4 separate regions of the Homo sapiens genome follow, and regions 2, 3 and 4 are each linked to region 1. Evidence: fine-mapped expression QTL. A gene starts in region 1. Each other region holds a variant in brackets. All regions are shown on one strand. Distances are between the middles of the regions.

Region 1 (5,148 bases):
GGGGCCTCAGTCGAGGTGGAACCATCGTTGGCAGCCCCCAAATGGGTAGAGTGCACCAGCAAACAGGAGCCCAGGGCCCTAGAGTAGGGGGCAGATCCGTGGGGACCACCTCACAGGGCTGTGGGACTCAGCAAGGAGGAGCATTTTATCCCAGGGACCATGAAAAGCCATGGAGGGTTTTAGGTAGGAGCAAAAGATGGTGCTCTTAGGTTTTTAAAAGATCAATCTAGTATGCCTGAGAAAAGTATGAAGCATTCCCGTCTGCCACTGTGGTGCTTATGATTATTCTGGGATACTGATACAGAATAAAGTAGCTAGTACTGATCACGTGCTATAAAGTTACAAATTGCCACTTTTACGGGTTAAAAACAGTGGAATATCGTCAACTTCACAAGATTCAACTTCCATGTACAAGCCGTTGTGGCAGGACCTCATCAGACCTCCTAGCTCTGAAGGGTGACCATTAAACTTCCCATTTCAGAGATGAGGAAAAGGAAGTTCTGAGTCACTGGGCAACCTGCCCAAGACCACACAGAACAAGTCCGGTGGTCAGACAGCTTGCCATGGCTCCTCACGCTCAGCACCTCATACTTGTTGGTCCTAACCCACCCACGTCTCTCTCTGACCAGACTCTGCATCCCTGTAGGAGAGGCCCTGTCTGCTCCATTCACTCCCAGATCCTCAGGCCGAGGACAGAGCGGGACCTCCTTAGAAAATCAAATCAAATTCACTCAACAGGGCACCACCCCAAAGTGTAAAACAGGGTTAACAGGAGCAGCCGGACCACAAGCTGCTGTGCACATTTACGGAGCTCAGCCTAGAGCAGGGCAGAACAGCCACATGGCAGCTCTGGGGGAGGCTGGCTTGGGAGTCTGACTTGTGCCATCCCAGACACAGAGCTACCTGTCAGGCCACGTGTGTTGCCCAGATTCCAGGAGCACAACTCATTCGACCACCACGTCGCTGCAGGGCCACTGGGAGACGCGGCTTCTGCCTCCGACCCTGGAGGACAGCCACCATCTGCATGGGGACTCAGTCTCCCTAAGCGTCTCAAGAAGAACTAATTCTCGATGAAGGAACTGGCCGGTGGTCTGGCCTAGTATCGAGACACCTACACCGTCTTTGGCATAAACACAGGGCCTGTTACTGCCCCTGAGGTCGTCACCAGGGGGAGAGAATGGCCAGTCCTGCCTCCCACAACGCCCAAGACATAAACACGCAACGTGGCACCACGGCCAGGCCGCAGTTCCAATCCCGGCTTCCCACGAGGCGGCTGTGCCTGGCTGGGTGGGCACCTTTTCCTTTGGGCTCTATCCCAGAGATAGGATCAGCTCTTGAGTCTGCCCGCCTGTCGTAACTTCTGCGCACAGAAGTCATGCACTGAGTCCCACTGACTGAGCACCTCGCAGCCGCCGCACCTTCACCTACATTATCTCTTTCCATCTTCACCAGGGCCCTCCAAGGTGAAAGCAAGTCCACACAGGCTCATCCACCACTCCAAAATCAAAAAAAGCTTCAAAAGCGAAAGTTTCTTCCTTCCTGGTTTGACCTGACACGAAGCTATCTGTTGTCTTATCCTAGACAGTCCTAGGTGGGTTTGATCAAACATCACAGTCCAAAATCCCACAGATCCTCAAATTGGAAAAATTCTGGATTCCAAAATATAGCTGGTCCCAAACATTTCAGATAAAGGGTCCCGGGCTTGTTTCCTGGACGAGGGAGGAGGCTCCAGAAGTAACTTCGTGCCCGGGAGAGGCTGGTCCAACTCTTCTGAGATCAGCCCCGACGCTCTCTAGGCCCCGGCAGACCCACCCACCCTGCGCCCAGTTCGCGCCAGGCGGGTCCGCGTCGGGAGTTCAAATCCCGCCCGGGGTCTGACCCAGCCCCGCCGGGGGGCTCGCGGGCGGCGGAGGCGCGGTGGGTCCACCGGGATCCCGATGGGGAGCGCGGGGCGCCTGGCGGCCCCAGCACTCGGCAAAGTTGGCAAAGGCGCGGGAGGGGAGGCCTGCGCGCCGCGGGGCCCGGGCCGGGGCCGGGAACCGGAGCCGGACCCTGGAACGGAGCCGCGCGCCCACCGGACCCCCGACACCAGCCCCGCCCCGCGTCCCTCCCCTCCCCCACCCCGGCCCCCGCCCGCCCCGCGCCGCCGCGCATGCGCACTGCAGCCCGCGATGTGGCAGCCGGGGGAGTTGGGGGGTGGGGGCCGGCCGGGGGCGGCCGCCGATGGAGCCCCGCGCCCCTCCGGCCCCGGACGGGCCAGGCGCCCCGGCCGGCCTCAGAGCTCCAGAGCGGGGCTCTCCGTCCCTGGGGCCCACGACGAGGCCGAGCCACGGCGGCGGGGGGCGCGGACGCGCGGGGGCGGGGGGCCGGCTCCCCCGGCCCGCTCACTCACCTCCGCCATGGCCGTGTGTGCGCGGGAGGCGGTGGCCGCGCCGGGATCCCCGGATGAGGGGCCGCGCACTCATTGGCTGTGGAGCCTGGAGGGCGGGGCAGGGGGCGGAGCCTGGAGGGGGCGGAGAGCGGGCCGGGCGCGTAGTAGGTGCGCGGGCGCGGGCGCGGGCGCGCAGCCGAGCGTGGCCGGCGGCTTCTGGCGAGCTTGCGGTGTCTTTCCGGCCGTCTCTGCTGGACCCTGATCTTGGCCTTGGCCTTGGCGGAGGAGACTGCATTCCATAAAAATACGAATTCCTGATAATCACACCTGCGTGGGGACCACGTGGTCCTGTGTGACCTCTTCATTCCCTCGGCTGCTCGCTGTTAATACCCCGCGTGGCAGACTAGGAAACTGAGGCCCAGGGCGACGGGCCACCCAGAGTGTCAGTGATAGAGCCAGAATTGGTGTCCGGGCTGCGTGGTTCTGGAATTTTCTGCACTTTCGCACCCGTGATGAGCAAACTAGCGCGCGGAGGAACCAATCGGGGAGCTTGCGAACGCGCACCAGTCGGAGAGGTTTTAGAAACGGTGGCCCCGCGCCGGAGAGCCCAAGGCGGGAGGCAGGGAGGTGGGCTTGACCCCAGGGCCATTTGGTTCTGCAGTCCGTCGTTTCGCAGATTGAACATTTCTGGAACACGTGCACGTTCTGATCCTGAGGGTTTGAAGGAGACAGCCCTAACGCCTGTCTTCAGGGCGTTTAGAGTGGAGGATGGGAAGGCAAGGACTCGCCACACCTTAAATTTGAGACGGATAAGTGCCGTGAATCTTCGGGGCGCACGATGCAGAGAGAGGATAGGAAGCAGGGGTGGGGCGTGAAGAGGCAGGGGCCAGGTGGGAGCTGTGGGGCCTGGACCAGAGTGCAGAGAGACTTGAGAAGGTGGACACCACAAGACTCGCTGATGGAGGGAAGCTGGAGAGAGTGAAGGATGGCCTCCAGATGTCTGGCTTGCGCAAATGAGTGGAGGGCGGTTCCTACTGAGACCAGGAAGAAGAGAACTGGAGACCAGGAAGAAGGGAATTGGGGACCAGGAGGAAGGGAATTGGGGACCAGGAAGAAGAGAATGAGTCTCATTCCTGTTTCCCAGTGATCAGCCAATGAATAGTGAGAACTTGACATGCATCAGCCTTGATTCCTGATGCAAAATCATTACTCAGTCCTCTGAGAATTCACCAACCAAGAGATAGAAGAACCACTCTGGAGGGGTCTACCCTCACTCCTTTTTTGGTTTACATCATTGAGATTGAGGGTTCTGGCCCTCGTGTTGAAGAGTCCTCACTGATTTGTGCAAGAGTTGGTTCCTTCCTTTATTATTCATTTGTTATTATTCATTCAGTCATTCAGTGAACTAAACACATATCTTATGCAGTCCTCAACTGGGTGCTGGGTAGCCAGAGGTCCTGTGAAGCAGGGAGAAGCATGAACAGATAAGAGAGTGAGGTGCTGTGCTGTAACAGGTGGAGGGGCCCGAAGACAAGGGCTTGAGTCCACCTGGCAAAACGAGGGAAGACTCTTAGGAGAGGGCTTGGCAAGAATCATCACATAGATGTCAAATGAGGACTTGGGTGAAGAGAAGGGTATTGTGGCTTGGAACGGTGACTCACACCTCTAATCCTAACACTTGGGGAGGCAGAGGCAGGAGGATCACTTGAGGTCAGGAGTTTGAGACCAGCCTGGGCAACAGGGTGAAACCCTGTCTCTACTAAAAATACAAAAATTATCCGGGCGTGGTGGCGAGTGCCCATAATCCCAGCTATTCTGTGGAGGCTAAGGCAAGAGAATCACTTGAACCTGGGAAGGCAGAGGTTGCAGTGAGCTAAGATCACTGCACTCCAGCCTGGGAAACAGAGTGAGACACTGTTTCAAAAAAAAAAAAAAAAAACTTTAAACATTAGAGGGCATGACGATAATGTGCCTGTAGTCCCAGCTACTCTGGAGGCCGAAGTGGGAGGATCTCTTGAGCCCAGGAGGTCGAGGCTGCGGTAAGCAGTGATTGTGCCACTGCACCCCAGCCTGGGCAACAGAGTGAGACCTGTCTCAAAAAAAAAAAAAAAAAAGAGTGAAGGATATTTTAAGGTCTGAAAGTCTGTCTCCGTAGACTGTTAGTCGCAGTGGAGAAATGAAGCCACTTGTTGGGTGGGTGATAAAACTCAGCATCCCTGGTAAAGGGCAGGTGCACACCATGTGCACCTGGATGTGGTGTCCAAAGCAGGACACGGCATCACTGAATCCAGCCAGCAATGCACAACCCATATCTACATATGAGGAAATTTCAGACAAACCCAAATAAGGAATATTCTGTTAAACAAAAGAGGGACTGTATTCTTCAGAAATGTTAATGCCACAATGGGGCGTGGTGGCGGGTGCCTGTAATCCCAGCTGCTCAGGAGGCTGAGGCAGGAGAATCACTTGAACCCGAGAGGCGGAGGTTGCAGTGAGCTGAGATTGCGCCACTACACTCCAGCCTGGGCGACAAGAGCAAAACTCCATCTCAAAACAAAACAGGCCAGGCGCTGTGGCTCACACCTGTAATCCCAGCACTTTGGGAGGCTGAAGCAGGAAGATCACGAGGTCAGGAGTTCAAGACCAGCCTAGCTAGCATGGTGAAACCTGATCTCTACTAAAATAATACAAAAAATTAGCCGGGCGTGGTGGTGCACACCTGTAGTCCCAACTACTCGGGAGGCTGAGGCAAGAGAATCGCTTGAAACCGGGAGGTG
Region 2 (5,148 bases), 43 kb after region 1:
GAAATTCCCAAAGGATCAAAAAATACAGAAGTTTTAGTTTGGAAAGAATGTGTGGCCAATAGTGCGGTGATATTACAAAACAATGAATTCGGAACTATTATAGATTGGGCACCTCGAGTCAATTCTACCACAGTTGCTCAGGACAAACTCGGTCGTGTCCAAGTGCACAAGTGAGTCCAGCTGTTGATAGCGACTTAACAGAAACTCTAGACAAACATAAGCATAAAAAATTACAGTCTTTCTACCCTTGGGTATGGGGAGAAAAAGGAATCTCTACCCCAAGACCAAAAATAATAAGTCCTGTTTCTGGTCCTGAACATCCAGAATTATGGAGGCTTACTGTGGCCTCACACCACATTAGAATTTGGTCTGGAAATCAAACTTTAGAAACAAGAGATTGTAAGCCATTTTATACTATCCACCTAAATTCCAGTCCAACGGTTCCTTTACAAAGTTGCGTAAAGCCCCCCCTTATATGCTAGTTGTAGGAAATATAGTTATTAAACCAGACTCTCAAACTATAACCTGTGAAAACTGCAGATTGTTTACTTGCATTGATTTGACTTTTAATTGGCAACACCGTATTCTGCTGGGGAGGGCAAGAGAGGGCGTGTGGGTCCCCGTGTCCACGGACTGACCGCAGGAGGCCTTGCCATCCGTCCGTATTTTGACTGAAGTATTAAAAGGCGTTTTAAATAGATCCAAAAGATTCATTTTTACTTTAATTGCAGTGATTATGGGATTAATTGCAGTCACAGCTACGGCTGCTGTAGCAGGAGTTGCATTGCACTCTTCTGTTCAGTCGGTAAACTTTTAATGATTGGCAAAAAAATTCTACAAGATTATGGAATTCACAATCTAGTATTGATCAAAAATTGGCAAATCAAATAATGATCTTAGACAACCTGTCATTTGGATGGGAGACAGGCTCATGAGCTTAGAACATTATTTCCAGTTACAGTGTGACTGGAATACGTCAGACTTTTGTATTACACCCCAAATTTATAATGAGTCTGAGCATCACTAGGACATAGTTAGACGCCATCTACAGGGAAGAGAAGATAATCTCACTTTAGACATTTCCAAATTGAAAGAACAAATTTTCGAAGCATCAAAAGCCCATTTAAATTTGGTGCCAGGAATGGAGGCAATCGCAGGAGTGGCTGATGGCCTCGCAAATCTTAACCCTGTCGCTTGGGTTACGACCATCGGAAGTTCTATGATTATAAATCTCATATTAATCCTTGTGTGCCTGTTTTGTCTGTTGTTAGTCTGCAGGTGTACCCAACAGCTCCGAAGAGACAGCGACCATCGAGAACGGGCCATGATGACGATGGCGGTTTTGTCGAAAAGAAAAGGGGGAAATGTGGGGAAAAGCAAGAGAGATCAGATTGTTACTGTGTCTGTGTAGAAAGAAGTAGACATGGGAGACTCCATTTTGTTCTGTACTAAGAAAAATTCTTCTGCCTTGAGATTCGGTGACCCCACCCCCAACCCCGTGCTCTCTGAAACATGTGCTGTGTCCACTCAGGGTTGAATGGATTAAGGGCGGTGCGAGACGTGCTTTGTTAAACAGATGCTTGAAGGCAGCATGCTCGTTAAGAGTCATCACCACTCCCTAACCTCAAGTACCCAGGGACACAAACACTGCGGAAGGCCGCAGGGTCCTCTGCCTAGGAAAGCCAGGTATTGTCCAAGGTTTCTCCCCATGTGACAGTCTGAAATATGGCCTCGTGGGAACGGAAAGACCTGACCGTCCCCCAGCCCGACACCCGTAAAGGGTCTGTGCTGAGGAGGATTAGTAAAAGGAAGGAATGCCTCTTGCAGTTGAGACAAGAGGAAGGCATCTGTCTCCTGCCCCTCCCTGGGCAATGGAATGTCTCGGTATAAAACCCGATTGTACGTTCCATCTACTGAGATAGGGAAAAACCGCCTTAGGGCTGGAGGTGGGACCTGCGGGCAGCAATACTGCTTTGTAAAGCATTGAGATGTTTATGTG[G/T]ATGCATATCTAAAAGCACAGCACTTAATCCTTTACCTTGTCTATGATGCAAAGACCTTTGTTCACGTGTTTGTCTGCTGACCCTCTCCCCACTATTGTCTTGTGACCCTGACACATCCCCCTCTTCAAGAAACACGCACGAATGATCAATAAATACTAAGGGAACTCAGAGGCTGGCGGGATCCTCCATATGCTGAACGCTGGTTCCCCGGGTCCCCTTATTTCTTTCTCTATACTTTGTCTCTGTGTCTTTTTCTTTTCCAAGTCTCTTGTTCCACCTAACGAGAAACACCCACAGGTATGGAGGGGCAACCCACCCCTTCACAGGTCAAATTGGCTTTAAGGTCCCAGTAAGAACTCTGTGTGTCCTTCACCTGGTCACCCGCTGTGAACGACCTGCCGCCCTGTGTTATCCTCCTGTCGGTTTTTTCCTGAACATTTGAAGCTAAGTTGTAGATGTCATGCACCTCCACCCCTAAAAATTTCAGTATTTATGTATTTCTTTATTTTTGAGGCAGTGCCTTGCTCTGTCATCCAGGCTGGAGTGCAACAGTGAATCTCCACACACTGCTGCCTCAACTTCCTGAGGTCAAGCGATCCCCCCAACGCAGACTCCCGAGTAGCTGGGACCACAGGGGCTCTGAGTCTCAGCGTCGGCCGTGTGTCCTCGAGTACACATCAGGGTCTCAGCCTCGGCCACGTGTGTCTGTGAGTACACAGCAGGGTCTCAGCCTCGGCCACGTGTGTCTGTAAGTACACGGCAGGGTCTCAGCCTCGGCCGCGTGTGTCTGTGAGTACACGGCAGGGTCTCAGCCTCGGCCGCGTGTGTCTGTGAGTACACTGCAGGGTCTCAGCCTCGGCCGCGTGTGTCTGTGAGTACACGGCAGGGTCTCAGCCTCGGCCGCGTGTGTCTGTGAGTACACTGCAGGGTCTCAGCCTCGGCCGCGTGTGTCTGTGAGTACACGGCAGGGTCTCAGCCTCGGCCGCGTGTGTCTGTGAGTACACGGCAGGGTCTCAGCCTCGGCCGTGTGTCCTCGAGTACACATCAGGGTCTCAGCCTCGGCCTTGATCATCTATCCTTGTTATATAATAAGCTCACATAAATTAGTAACAGGTCAAAACCCCGGCAGGAGGATGAGTGAGAACTTGGATGAGCAAGTTACAAATGGAAGAAATACGGTGGCCAAGATCTTAGGAACACATATCCAGCCTTAAGAAATTCAAGTTAAGGGCGGGGCGCAGTGACTCAGGCCTGTAATCCCAGCACTTTGGGAGGCCGAGGCGGACGGATCACCTGAGGTCAGGAGTTCGAGACCAGCCTGGCCAACATGGTGAAACCCCGTCTCTACTAAAAATACAAAAATCAGCCGGGCGTGATGGTGCATGCCTGTAATCTCAGCTACTCGAGAGGCTGAGGGAGAAGAATCACTTGAACCCGGGAGGTGGAGGTTGCATTGAGCTGAGAGAGACAGAGAGACGTGCAGGGTTGACAAGGATGGGCTGGCGTGGGGGCAGGCCCCACACCCTCAGCCCTGCACGGGCGCAGCCCTCAGAAGGGAACTGGGCGGCAGGTACCTGCATCACAGATGCTCCGTCCTTGGGCCCAGGATCTTCACCCCCAGTCATCTGTCTTGTGGAGTGTGTCGCTATGAAGAGGTCCCTGAGGCTGGGTCGTTCATAACGAAGAGGGTTCATTTGCTCACGGTTCTGCGGGCCGTACAGGAAATGTGACACCGGCCTCTGGGCCGCTTCTGGGGAGGCCGGGGAGGTTTACCCATCAAGGAAGGTGAAGAGGGAGCTGGTGTGTCACGGGTGAGAGGGAGCAAGAGGGAAGGTGCCGCACTCCTAAATGGCTCTCAGGTGAGCAACAGGCAGGACGGGGGACGGTGCCGCACTCCTAAATGGCTCTCAGGTGAGCAACAGGCAGGACGGGGGATGGTGCCGCACTCCTAAACAGCTCTCAGGTGAGCGAGAGTTAGCAAGGGGGAAGGTGCCGCAATCGTAAACAGCTCTCAGGTGAGCAAGAACTCAACTCACGTGTCACCAAGGGCATGGGCTAAGCCCTGCAGGCGGGATCTACCCCGTGAGCCAGCACCTCCCACCAGGCCTCACACCAACTCTGGGCGTCACATTTCCGCATGAGATTTGGAGGGACACATGTGTCCAAACATGTCACAGAGCACGTAGTCAGTGACGTTCACACATGAATATTCATCCCAGATTTACTCATGGTAATGAAACCCTCAACACGACAGCAGAGTTTGGGTGTGTTCCTAAGAGCGGGTGGTTTGCAGATGTTCACCTCATCCAAAAACATCCTCACAGACCTGCCCAGAATGATGTTTGACCAAACTTCTGGGGATCCTGCGGCCCAGTCGAGTTCACACAAAAAATTCACCAACACACTCGGCATTCCGGGGAAGCTGGGGACGCGTGAGGGGCCACCAGGTGGCTGCAGAGACAGTGTCTGAGCTGTGAGGTCTATTTTCAGCCCAAAGAGTCGGCTTCTGGGGAACAGCCCAAGATGCCCTTGGAGGAGAGGCTGGGACGAGTCCCCCAGTCCCTCTGCAGCCCCAACCCCCAACCCAGCCCTTGACAAGCCCCTCCCCTCCAGACACAGGGCAATGCCCCTCTCCGTCTCTCTGTCTCTCTCTCTCTCCCCTCCCTCTTTCTCTGTCCTCCGTGTGTCTGCCTGTCCTCTGAGTCCACCACTGGCCTCTTGCACGTGCCCTGCCCGTGGCTCCTGCCCTCACGTCTCTGCTCGCTCCCGTATCCCCCATGAGCTGGTTCTGGGAGGCCGCGGTCTGGCTTGTGGGGACCCATCCATTTCTCTCCTGGGGCCTGAGCTGGGGTTGGGGTTCTAGAGCAGCGCAGGCCAAGACCCCACGGTAATGGGAGACAGAGGTGGGTAGAGCGTGGCCTCCAAGACATGATTCTGAACAATGCAGACCCATGGCTGTAACAGATGCAGCCCATGTAGCCTGAGAGTAGGGTCACTGTACAACTACAGATGCCATCAACAAAACTCCGTGTAGCAACATCCTCCCACTCAGTCCTCGAGCAGCCCTGAAGGCACAGCCACCATTGCTCCCTGTCACAGATGGGAACACCAAGACAGCCACCATTGCTCCCTGTCACAGATGGGAACA
Region 3 (5,148 bases), 47 kb before region 1:
GTGAAACAAACAGGACACCCCGTTACATTTGAATCCCAGAAGAGCAACAAACCGGTTTTCAGTATGTGTCCCGAATACTGCATGGGACATACTTACACATTCGTTTATCTGTAATCCGAGCCCAACTGGGCATCCTGTATTTTATCTGGCCATCCTACCCAGGAACTACAAACCGAGAAAACAAGGACCATCAGGGAGAGAGAAACAGCTGGGTCAGGTCAGTGGGGGCCCAGACAGCGCCAGTCCAGGGCCCGGACATCTTCAACAAAGCCTGGGCCTGGGAGGCTGAGGCTCTGGGGACCGTGGCCGGTCCAGGACCATCAGTTCTGAGCGACTTTCTCCCTCCCCCACTTCCACCCCCACAGAAATTGTCTCAGGAGGGCTGATCTCCAGGCAGGCCCCTGGCTAACGCCTGCTTCCTGGCACGGCCATGGACTCTGTCCAGAACAGATTTCCATATTTGGTTAGCAGGTAGGAAGGAGGTCATCAAAGACCTTCACTTCACTGTAAAAGGAAAGCATTAAATAAACGAACACAAATGACTTTTATTTATGGCTGCCGAAAAGCTGAGGACAGTAAGTTTGTTCTAGAGAGGTATGAGCTCCCCTGAGGTTAGTCAAGACCAAGTCTGGTGGAGGCCTCATTAGTCCTAGGAGCCTGGTGTCAGACAAATCCGGAAGAGCCCCAAGGCACAGCGGGCCCTCCAGGTCCTCCTGCCTGGGTCTGGGCTGCAGGAAGGGCAGGATTCCACCACCCCACAGCTAACCCAGAGGCAAAGCTACGCTACACAAGCGGTGAGCAGGCCAGCCCAGCTCCTCGAGACCAGCACATCAACCCAGCTGCTGACAGGAGAGGGGCAAGCCCTTCCTGAGGCAAAACAGTATCCCCTCTGCTCCTTAACTGTCTTACCCACATCTAGTGCACCCTCAGAAACACAAGACACCATGGACAAGAACAGAATATTAGTCAACAATGGCATCCCAGGGTCTCTCCCAGCTCCAACCTATCTTAGATATTCCAGTCAAATCCAATCTCCCTAAAGCGTGACTCTACTTCAGCTAAAAAACACACTAAGGCTCCCCACTGCCTTCCCAGTTTCAGATTTCTTGGCCTAAGAGGGAAGTTGTTCCTGCACTGCCCTCCTGACCTCTGTGCTCACCCCACACAAATGGGACGCTCATGCCTCTGGGTGGCTGCGCCCGGCCTGCCCATGTGCTCCTCCCTCTTACTATTCCTTCTCCATGGGGCCTGCCCTGCTACCGAAGGGGAACAAGGGACCCTGGCCTGGCCAACCAGGAAACCCCTTCTGCTCGGCAGTTCCTGATTCAGTTATGGGCACGAGACCCAAGAACAAATTTTACCCAGGAGTTTTGTTAGAACAGTTGGGCAAGATACAGGCTTCCCACAGAAATCACAGATGTAAGGTTGTGTGCCTGGAGCTTCTGGTGCCATCTCAGTCGCCACAAAGGGCGCTGCCCCTGAGAAGAAGGTCAGTTCGGGCAGCAGAGAAATAGAAGCACCGAAACATCATAATGTGGATGGTGACTCCTGATTCCTGTTTCTGGAGGCCCTGGCATCCCCGGACTGGGTCTTAAGAGTATAACTTTCGGGCTGGGCACAGCGGCTCACGCCTGTCATCCCAGCACTTTGGGAGGCCGAGGAGGGCAGATCACAAGGTCAAGAGTTTGAGACCAGCCTGGCCAACATGGTGAAAGCCCGTCTCTACTAAGAATACAAAAATTAGCCGGGCGTGGCAGCGTGTGCGGTGTGGTGGTGTGCGCCTGTAATCCCAGCTACTCCGGAGGCTGAGGCAGGAGAATCACTTAAACCTGGGAGGCAGGGGTTGCAGTGAACTGAGATCACACCACTGCACTCCAGCCTGGGCAACAAAGCGAGACGCCGTCTCAAAAAAAAAAAGAAAAAGAAAAGGAAAAAAAGGGCTGGGCTCAGTGGCTCACGCCTGT[A/C]ATCCCAGCACTTTGGGAGGCCGAGGCGGGTGGATCACCTGAGGTCAGGAGTTCAAGACCATCCTGGCAAACATGGTGAAACCTCGTCTCTACTAAAAATACAAAAACTAGCCGGGCATGGTGGTGGGTGCCTGTAGTCCCAGCTACTCGGGAGGCTGAGGCAGGACAATATCACTTGAACCTGGGAAGTGGCAGTTGCTGTGCGCCGAGTTCACGCCGCTGCACTCCAGCCTGGGCGATAGAGCGAGACCTCGTCTCAAAAAAAAAAAAAAAAAAAAAAAAGCAAAGCAATAGGATGACAATGATTTAAAGTAACTATTATTAAAAGGTTAAAGATTACAGAAGAAAAGATAGGGGCAAGGTGAGAAAATGGAGAATTTCAGCAGAAAAATTAAAAACACATAAGAGCACCTATTAAAATATACAATATGGGAAATAAAAATTTTGTGAAACAGACTAAATAGAAATCTGGAATATCAGAAAAGAGGATTGGTAGCATCAAAGACATGTCGATAGAAATTATTCAGAGGCCGGGCACACTGGCTCACGCCTGTAATCCCAGTACTTTGGGAGGCCGAGGCAGGTGGCTCACGAGGTCAGGAATTCAAGACCAGCCTGGCCAATATGGTGAAACCCCGTGTCTACTAAAAATAAAACAAAAATTAGCCGGGTGTGGTGGCGCACACCTATAATCCCAGCTACTGGGAAGGCTGAGGCAGGAGAATCGCTTGAACCCAGGAGATGGAGGTTGCAGTGAGCCGACATCATCGACATCATGCCACTGCACTCCAGCCTGGGTGACAGAGCAAGACTCCGTCTCCCAAAAAAAAAAAAAAAAAAAAGAAATTATTCAAACAGAAGCACAGAGAGAGAGAAAAATAAAAGAGAGAGCTGTGAGGCAACACCGAGGGTTGTAACATTAGTGACTGGAGAGACTGTGGGTCACCCATGGCCATGACACCAGTGACTGGAGAGACTGTGGGACACCCATGGCCGTGACACCAGTGACTGGAGGGACTGTGGGTCACCCATGGTCGTGACACCAGTGACTGGCGAGACTGTGGGACACCCAGGGCCGTGACACCAGTGACTGGAGGGACTGTGGGACACCCATGGCCGTGACACCAGTGACTGGAGGGACTGTGGGACACCCATGGCCGTGACACCAGTGACTGGCGAGACTGTGGGACACCCAGGGCCGTGACACCAGTGACTGGAGAGACTGTGGGTCACCCAGGGCCGTGACACCAGTGACTGGAGGGACTGTGGGACACCCATGGCAGTGACACCAGTGACTGGAGGGACTGTGGGTCACCCATGGCCGTGACACCAGTGACTGGAGAGACTGTGGGTCACCCATGGCCGTGACACCAGTGACAGTGACTGTGGGACACCCATGGCCGTGACACCAGTGACTGGAGGGACTGTGGGACACCCATGGCCGTGACACCAGTGACAGTGACTGTGGGTCACCCAGGGCCGTGACACCAGTGACTGGAGGGACTGTGGGACACCCAGGGCCGTGACACCAGTGACTGGAGAGACTGTGGGTCACCCATGGCCGTGACACCAGTGACAGTGACTGTGGGACACCCATGGCCGTGACACCAGTGACTGGAGGGACTGTGGGACACCCATGGCCGTGACACCAGTGACTGGAGGGACTGTGGGTCACCCAGGGCCGTGACACCAGTGACTGGAGGGACTGTGGGACACCCAGGGCCGTGACACCAGTGACTGGAGGGACTGTGGGTCACCCAGGGCCGTGACACCAGTGACTGGAGGGACTGTGGGACACCCATGGCCGTGACACCAGTGACTGGAGGGACTGTGGGACACCCATGGCCGTGACACCAGTGACTGGAGGGACTGTGGGTCACCCAGGGCCGTGACACCAGTGACTGGAGAGACTGTGGGACACCCATGGCCGTGACACCAGTGACTGGAGGGACTGTGGGTCACCCAGGGCCGTGACACCAGTGACTGGAGAGACTGTGGGACACCCATGGCCGTGACACCAGTGACTGGAGGGACTGTGGGTCACCCATGGCCGTGACACCAGTGACTGGAGGGACTGTGGGACACCCATGGCCGTGACACCAGTGACTGGAGAGACTGTGGGTCACCCATGGCCGTGACACCAGTGACTGGAGAGACTGTGGGTCACCCATGGCCGTGACACCAGTGACAGTGACTGTGGGACACCCATGGCCGTGACACCAGTGACTGGAGACTGTGGGACACCCAGGGCCGTGACACCAGTGACTGGAGAGACTGTGGGACACCCATGGCCGTGACACCAGTGACTGGAGAGACTGTGGGTCACCCATGGCCGTGACATCAGTGACTGGAGAGACTGTGGGTCACCCATGGCCGTGACACCAGTGACAGTGACTGTGGGACACCCAGGGCCGTGACACCAGTGACTGGAGAGACTGTGGGTCACCCATGGCCGTGACATCAGTGACTGGAGAGACTGTGGGTCACCCATGGCCGTGACACCAGTGACAGTGACTGTGGGACACCCATGGCCGTGACACCAGTGACTGGAGAGACTGTGGGACACCCATGGCCGTGACACCAGTGACTGGAGAGACTGTGGGACACCCATGGCCGGGACACCAGTGACTGGAGAGACTGTGGGACACCCATGGCCGTGACACCAGTGACTGGAGGCTGTGGGACACCCAGGGCCGTGACACCAGTGACTGCAGAGACTGTGGGACAACACCCAGGGCCGTGACACCAGTGACTGGAGACTGTGGGACAACACCCAGGGCCGTGACACCAGTGACTGGAGGGACTGTGGGACACCCATGGCCGTGACACCAGTGACTGGAGGGACTGTGGGTCACCCATGGCCGTGACACCAGTGACTGGAGGGACTGTGGGACACCCATGGCCGTGACACCAGTGACTGGAGAGACTGTGGGACACCCATGGCCGTGACACCAGTGACTGGAGGGACTGTGGGTCACCCAGGGCCGTGACACCAGTGACTGGAGAGACTGTGGGACACCCAGGGCCGTGACACCAGTGACTGGAGGGACTGTGGGACACCCATGGCCGTGACACCAGTGACTGGAGGGACTGTGGGTCACCCAGGGCCGTGACACCAGTGACTGGAGAGACTGTGGGACACCCATGGCCGTGACACCAGTGACTGGAGGGACTGTGGGTCACC
Region 4 (5,148 bases), 99 kb before region 1:
GCATAAAAGGATTTCAGAATTTCCGTCCATAAGGAAGTAGCTTTGTGCACTGTCTGTTACTGTGTGCAAGGTGAAATTTGAAGAATGAAAACGTGCAGTAACAAGGGCTCCTTTGTCCAACTCACCTCTCCAGATACCAAGTTTCAGACATGTTGCATTTTAATTGAAAGGTTGATATAATTTTTTTTAAAGAACACTTGCGGTGTTTGAAGTGACAAAGGCTGCTGTGACAAAAAAGCAGGGAAAGGGAATTTTTTTTTAAAAGCAAACAACAACAACAAAAACCCCACAGAAAAGCAAACAACAAACAAACAAAAAACAGAGGAAGAAGTCGAACACCCTGGGCTGTGACTACTTCCAGGAAGGGGCTACAAGAGGCAGTTGGAAATTCTATTTGTTTTGCAACTGTGGGTTTTCCGGCCCGCTTCCTTTCTAAAGTATATTACTCTGCTTTTGGTTCATGAAGTTATCCATTTCTGTTTTCTGGAACAGCTATGTATTTTCTTTATCTATCATCTATCTATCTATTTACCATCTATCTTTTCTACCTTTCGCTATCAAGAGCTTGGGTCAAGCAGGATAGAATTCCAGTGTATGTTCACTCTACCATTTAAAACAAGAGCTCTTGTAGGCATTCTCCATCACATCATAAACCTGAGCTTTCTAAAACAGGGTGTGGCAAACTACCATGCATGGACCATGTCTGACACAGTCTGCGTTTGTAAGTAAAGTTGTAATGGGACACAGCCAATACATGTGTTACATAATGTCTCTGGCTATTTTCATGGTATAATGGAAGAGCTGAGTCATTGAGAGAGAGACCATATGGCTTGGAAAACTTAAAATATTTAACATTTAGCCCCTTGCAGAAAATACTTGCTGACTCTTGTTTAAAAGATCTCTGTTTAGAATGCTACCTATTGAGTTCTGGATAGAATCACAACTCTTTACCACAATCAACACCGCTTCAGCCCTGCTTCTATATCCAGCCTCATCTATTTCTGCTCCTCCTCATTTTCCTTCTGGCCATGCTGATGGATTGTCAGCTTCCCAGATGTGTGAGAATCTCTCCTCCCTTCCTAACATTCTCATGCTCTCCCTCTGCCTCTCAAGAACTTCCTGCCCCATCTCTCATGACAAATCCTTTCTACATTCTTTAAGATGCAGCCCTTTTGCTCCTTCCTTAAGGATGTCTTGTCTGGCTCTATTTTGGGTGACGTGCTCCTTCTGCATCTCCCAGAGCCAGCCTGTGTGTGTCAGCTACAACATTTCTTTGCATCTCTGTGTCATATATCACCAAATCTGCCTAAGCTTGCATGAGTCACTGCATGACAACTTCAGACTCCACCAGCATTGTCCCCACTAACCACAAGGCTTAGACATTCGTCCAGTATGCTCGGGGTTGTGGGGTGGTAGCAGTAACTGGCTGGTGACCATCATTTCTTACATCAGAATCAAATCTGTAGATCTCTGCCATTCATAAGTATTTGGAGTTTAAAATTAGCATAAAGATTTTCCTTAAAATAAGAAGAAAGGCCTTGAGTAGGCTTTTGGAACATAGGATGTTTCCACTGGTTCATTTCTGTGTTCAATATTCCCACATGAATCTGAACACGACTCTGCTCTTAGTAGCTATGTGACCCTGGGAAAGTCACTCAATCTCCCTCAGCTAAATTTTGTTGTGTGAGTAATGAGGAGAGAGTTGTGATTTGTATTTAGTGAATAATAACAAACAAAAGGCATTTAGCTTTCTGGAACCTGGTATGTAGTAGAACCTCATGAAATACTAGCTCTGTTGATAAAACTAGACTGAAAGAAGCTTTCAAAGTCAACAACAGTTTGAGGCAGTGAAGGACGTAGAGGAGAAGCTGCTGCTGCAGTCTGTAGCTCCTGGAAGCCCGTTTTGTCCATGATTTAGCAGGAATGCATTACCCTTCCATGAGGAGGCACAGCCCACAGAAACCAAGGCCATTCTTTGAAGAAAAACATGTCTTAATAGGGTTTACATTATGTAACAGTGTAATACAAATAATAATTTATTATTAGTAATAATATAAAATTATTTACAGTACCGTAACCCTAACTCTAACCCCTAATCCTAACCCTAACCCCTAACCCTAATCCTAACCCAAACCCTAACCCTAACCCAACCCTAACCCTAACCCAACCCTAACCCAAACCTGACCCTAGCCCCTAAACCTAACCCTAACCCCTAACTCCTAACCCTAACCCCTAACCCTAACCCTAACCTTAACCCCTAACCCCTATCCCTAACCCTAACCCCTAACCCCATAACCCCAACCCTAAACCCAACCCCAACCCCAACCCCTGACCCTGACCCTGACCCTGACCCCGACCCCTAACCCTAAACCCTAACCCCTAACCCTAACCCTACCCCTAGCCC[G/A]AACCCGAACCCTAACCCTAACCCCTAACCCTAACCCCTAACCCTAACCCTACTCCAACCCCAACCCCAACCCTAACCCCTAACCCCTAATCCCCTAACCCTAACCCCTAACCCCTAACCCTCACCCTAACCCTAAACCACATGAGCAATGTGGGTGTTATATTTTGGGTGTCATGTGTGCCTTAGGAATGCTGCATTTGTATTCCAACGCTGCAACTGGACCCTGCAATGCAGCCCCTCGCCTTGCCTTGGGAGAATCTCGGTGCGCAGGATTCAGAGGGGCTTTTGGTTTCCCGTTTTCCACACTGAACCGTTCTAACTGGTCTCTGCCCTTGATTATTCACGGCTGCAACCGGGAAAGATTTAATTCACCGTCGATGCGGCCCCGAGTTGTCCCAAAGCCAGGCAGTGCCCCCAACGTCTGTGCTTAGGAGAATGCTGCTCCACCTTTACGGTGTCCCCCAGGTCTGTGCTAAGCAGAACGCAGCTCCGCCCTCGCGGTGCCCTCAGCCCGCCCGCCCGGGTCTGACCTGAGGAGAACTCTGCTCCGCCTTCGCAGTACCACTGAAATCTGTGCAGATGAGAACGCAGCTCCGCCCTCGCGATGCTCTCCGCGTCTGTGCTGAGGAGAACCCAACTCCGCTCTCGCAAAGGCACGGCGCGCCGGCGCCGGCGCAGGCAGGCGCGGCGCGCCCGCGCAGGCGCTGTTCGGGAGACGCGGCGCAGGGCATAGACGCACGCCTCCGCGTCCCCGGAGGGGAGGGGTCTCTGGGCGGGCGGGAGTGAGGCGCGGCGCAGGTGCAGGCGCAGAGACGCACGTCGCTGGGCTCAGGGTGGCGGGGCGTGTTGCAGGTGTACAGTCGCACGCCGCTGGGCGGGGAGCGCGGGAATGGCGAGGTGCAGGCGCAGACACACGTCCCCGGCGGCGCGGCGCACAGACGGGTGGAACCTGAGTAATCTGAAAAGCCCGGTTCGGGTGCCCCCTGCTTGTACCCGGGCACTACAGGACCCGCTTGCCCACGGTGCTGTGCCATTGCGCCCCCTGCTGGCGACTAGGGCAACTGCAGGGCCCTCTTCCTTACAGTGGTGTCCAGCGCCCCCTGCCGGTGCCGGGGCACGGCAGGGCTCTCTTGCTCGCAGTATACTGGCGGCACGCCGCCTGCTGGCAGCTAGGGACATTGCAGGGCCCTCTTGCTCACATTGTAGTGGCAGCACACCCGCCTGCTGGCAGCTGGGGACACTGCTGGGCCCTCTTGCTTGCAGTGTAGTCGGGGCATGCCCTCTTCTGTCCGCTGGGGGCACTACAGGATCCTCTTGCTCACAGTGTAGTGGCAGCACGCCCCCTGCTGGCAACCAGGGCACTTCACGGTCCTCTTGCTCATGGTGTGGTGCCCCTACGCCACCTCCTGGCAGCTAAGGACACTGCAGGGCCCTCTTGCTCACAGTGTAGTCGTCGTTCGCCCCCTGCTGGCAGCTAGGGACACTGCCGGGCCCTCTTGCTGACACTGTCGTGGCTGCACGCCACCTGCAGGCAGATGGGGACTAGGCAGGGCCCTCTTGCTCCCGGTGTGACGGCTGGCGTCCCCTACTGGCCGCCTCCTGCACCACTTAAAGTCAGAGCGCCAGTTATTAATCCCCATCAGTTCTGTAAATTAAAACTGAAAAGGAGCTATTACTGGGGAGAGCTGATGTCCCAGTTATTAACTTGGAAGAAAGATTTTCACCAAGAGGCAGTACAAAGATGGAAGATAACTTCATTGAAAAGAAATACAGTGTAAAGAGCTTATTGTAGGAAAATAGGGAGGAGTGGGTTCATAGTGCATGAAAACAGCCTAAGAGTCCTGTGCAGGGAATTTTATTTTGGACTTCTTCACATTCCTGCCTCTGTCTCAAGTCTATGCTTGTTTTCCTTGGTTTTCCTGCTACTGCCTTAGGTCCCTGACTTGCCCCACTTAGGCTTGTGGGACCTCCTGTTGATTGAGGTACACGTGGGGTGATGAATCTGAATCCACTCTGGCACCAACCTCCTTCCTGCCATCCCAGGCAGGCTGACAGCAGTCACGTTTGTATCTACTGCACCTGCCTCTTTTGAATGTCTTTCTCTGCCCTAATCTGTACTTATGGTGCCAGGTTTCTCTTAGGAATGTCCCCTTTGTCCTTCTTATCAGCATGTAGCTAGCAATATTCTGACATTTTTATTGCAGAGTGAATGATGATTGGGGCATCTTAAGAGAAGTTCTAGGGTGTTTCTGCGTAGGTACCTCTTCTCCCTCCTAACCACAATTGACAAGTGCCCATCCTCTCCAGCACTGGAGATGCTACTAATATGTGCATTTTTGGTGGTCCCTCCAGGTGAGCCTTCACAGACTTTCCCTTTTCCAGGAGCTCCCCCTCCTGTTCATGTCTAGCTAGCTATCTACTCTAACAGAGCCCACTATCCTGTGTCTTTCCCAAAAATAGTGAGGGAATTATTAATTGGAAACCATAAGAAATCATATGCATGTAGATGAAAACTTTACAACTTACACAAATAATCACTCAAAATCATCCTTACACTAAAAAAGCAAAACTATACAATTTCTAGAAGAAACTATAGAAGAAAAGCTATGTGCCTTTGCGTTTGGTAATGAATTTTAACAAATGACACAGAAGGTTGATATACACAGAAGAAATGACAATGTGGATTTCTTAATATTTACAGTTTATACTCTGGAAGAGACCTTGTTAAGAGAACCAAAAGACAA

What was found. PIP is the estimated chance that this variant, and not a neighbour inherited with it, causes the effect.
Region 2: its variant is the best candidate, but not a certain one, in a credible set for the expression of MIER2 in esophagus mucosa (GTEx, PIP 0.51).
Region 3: its variant is the best candidate, but not a certain one, in a credible set for the expression of MIER2 in left ventricle (GTEx, PIP 0.82).
Region 4: its variant is the best candidate, but not a certain one, in a credible set for the expression of MIER2 in whole blood (TOPMed, PIP 0.84).

Annotation. Positions count from the first base shown.
Region 1 is chr19:342,382-347,529 of GRCh38, forward strand. It overlaps MIER2 (MIER family member 2), which reads right to left and starts at 2,415. Exons shown (of 14, transcript NM_017550.3): 1 at 2,393-2,415. The coding sequence starts at 2,401. RefSeq lists an enhancer at 520-1,471 and silencers at 1,780-1,889, 2,190-2,239, 2,310-2,759.
Region 2 is chr19:385,315-390,462 of GRCh38, forward strand. It overlaps LOC124904606 (a long non-coding RNA gene), which reads left to right. Exons shown (of 3, transcript XR_007067071.1): 3 at 1-1,367. Among named protein-coding and RNA genes, the nearest start is that of SPMAP2, 12 kb to the left of the region's middle. RefSeq lists enhancers at 1,307-1,872, 1,873-2,437, 2,438-3,002, 3,568-4,133, 4,134-4,698. The variant G/T (reference allele first, on the strand shown) is at 2,000.
Region 3 is chr19:295,438-300,585 of GRCh38, forward strand. No RefSeq gene overlaps it. Among named protein-coding and RNA genes, the nearest start is that of PLPP2, 6.6 kb to the left of the region's middle. The variant A/C (reference allele first, on the strand shown) is at 1,965.
Region 4 is chr19:243,463-248,610 of GRCh38, forward strand. LOC101928344 (a long non-coding RNA gene) reads right to left here and starts at 3,063. Exons shown (of 13, transcript XR_002958438.2): 1 at 2,935-3,063. LOC107985295 (a long non-coding RNA gene) reads right to left here and starts at 1,869. Exons shown (of 2, transcript XR_001753827.2): 1 at 1-1,869. The variant G/A (reference allele first, on the strand shown) is at 2,405.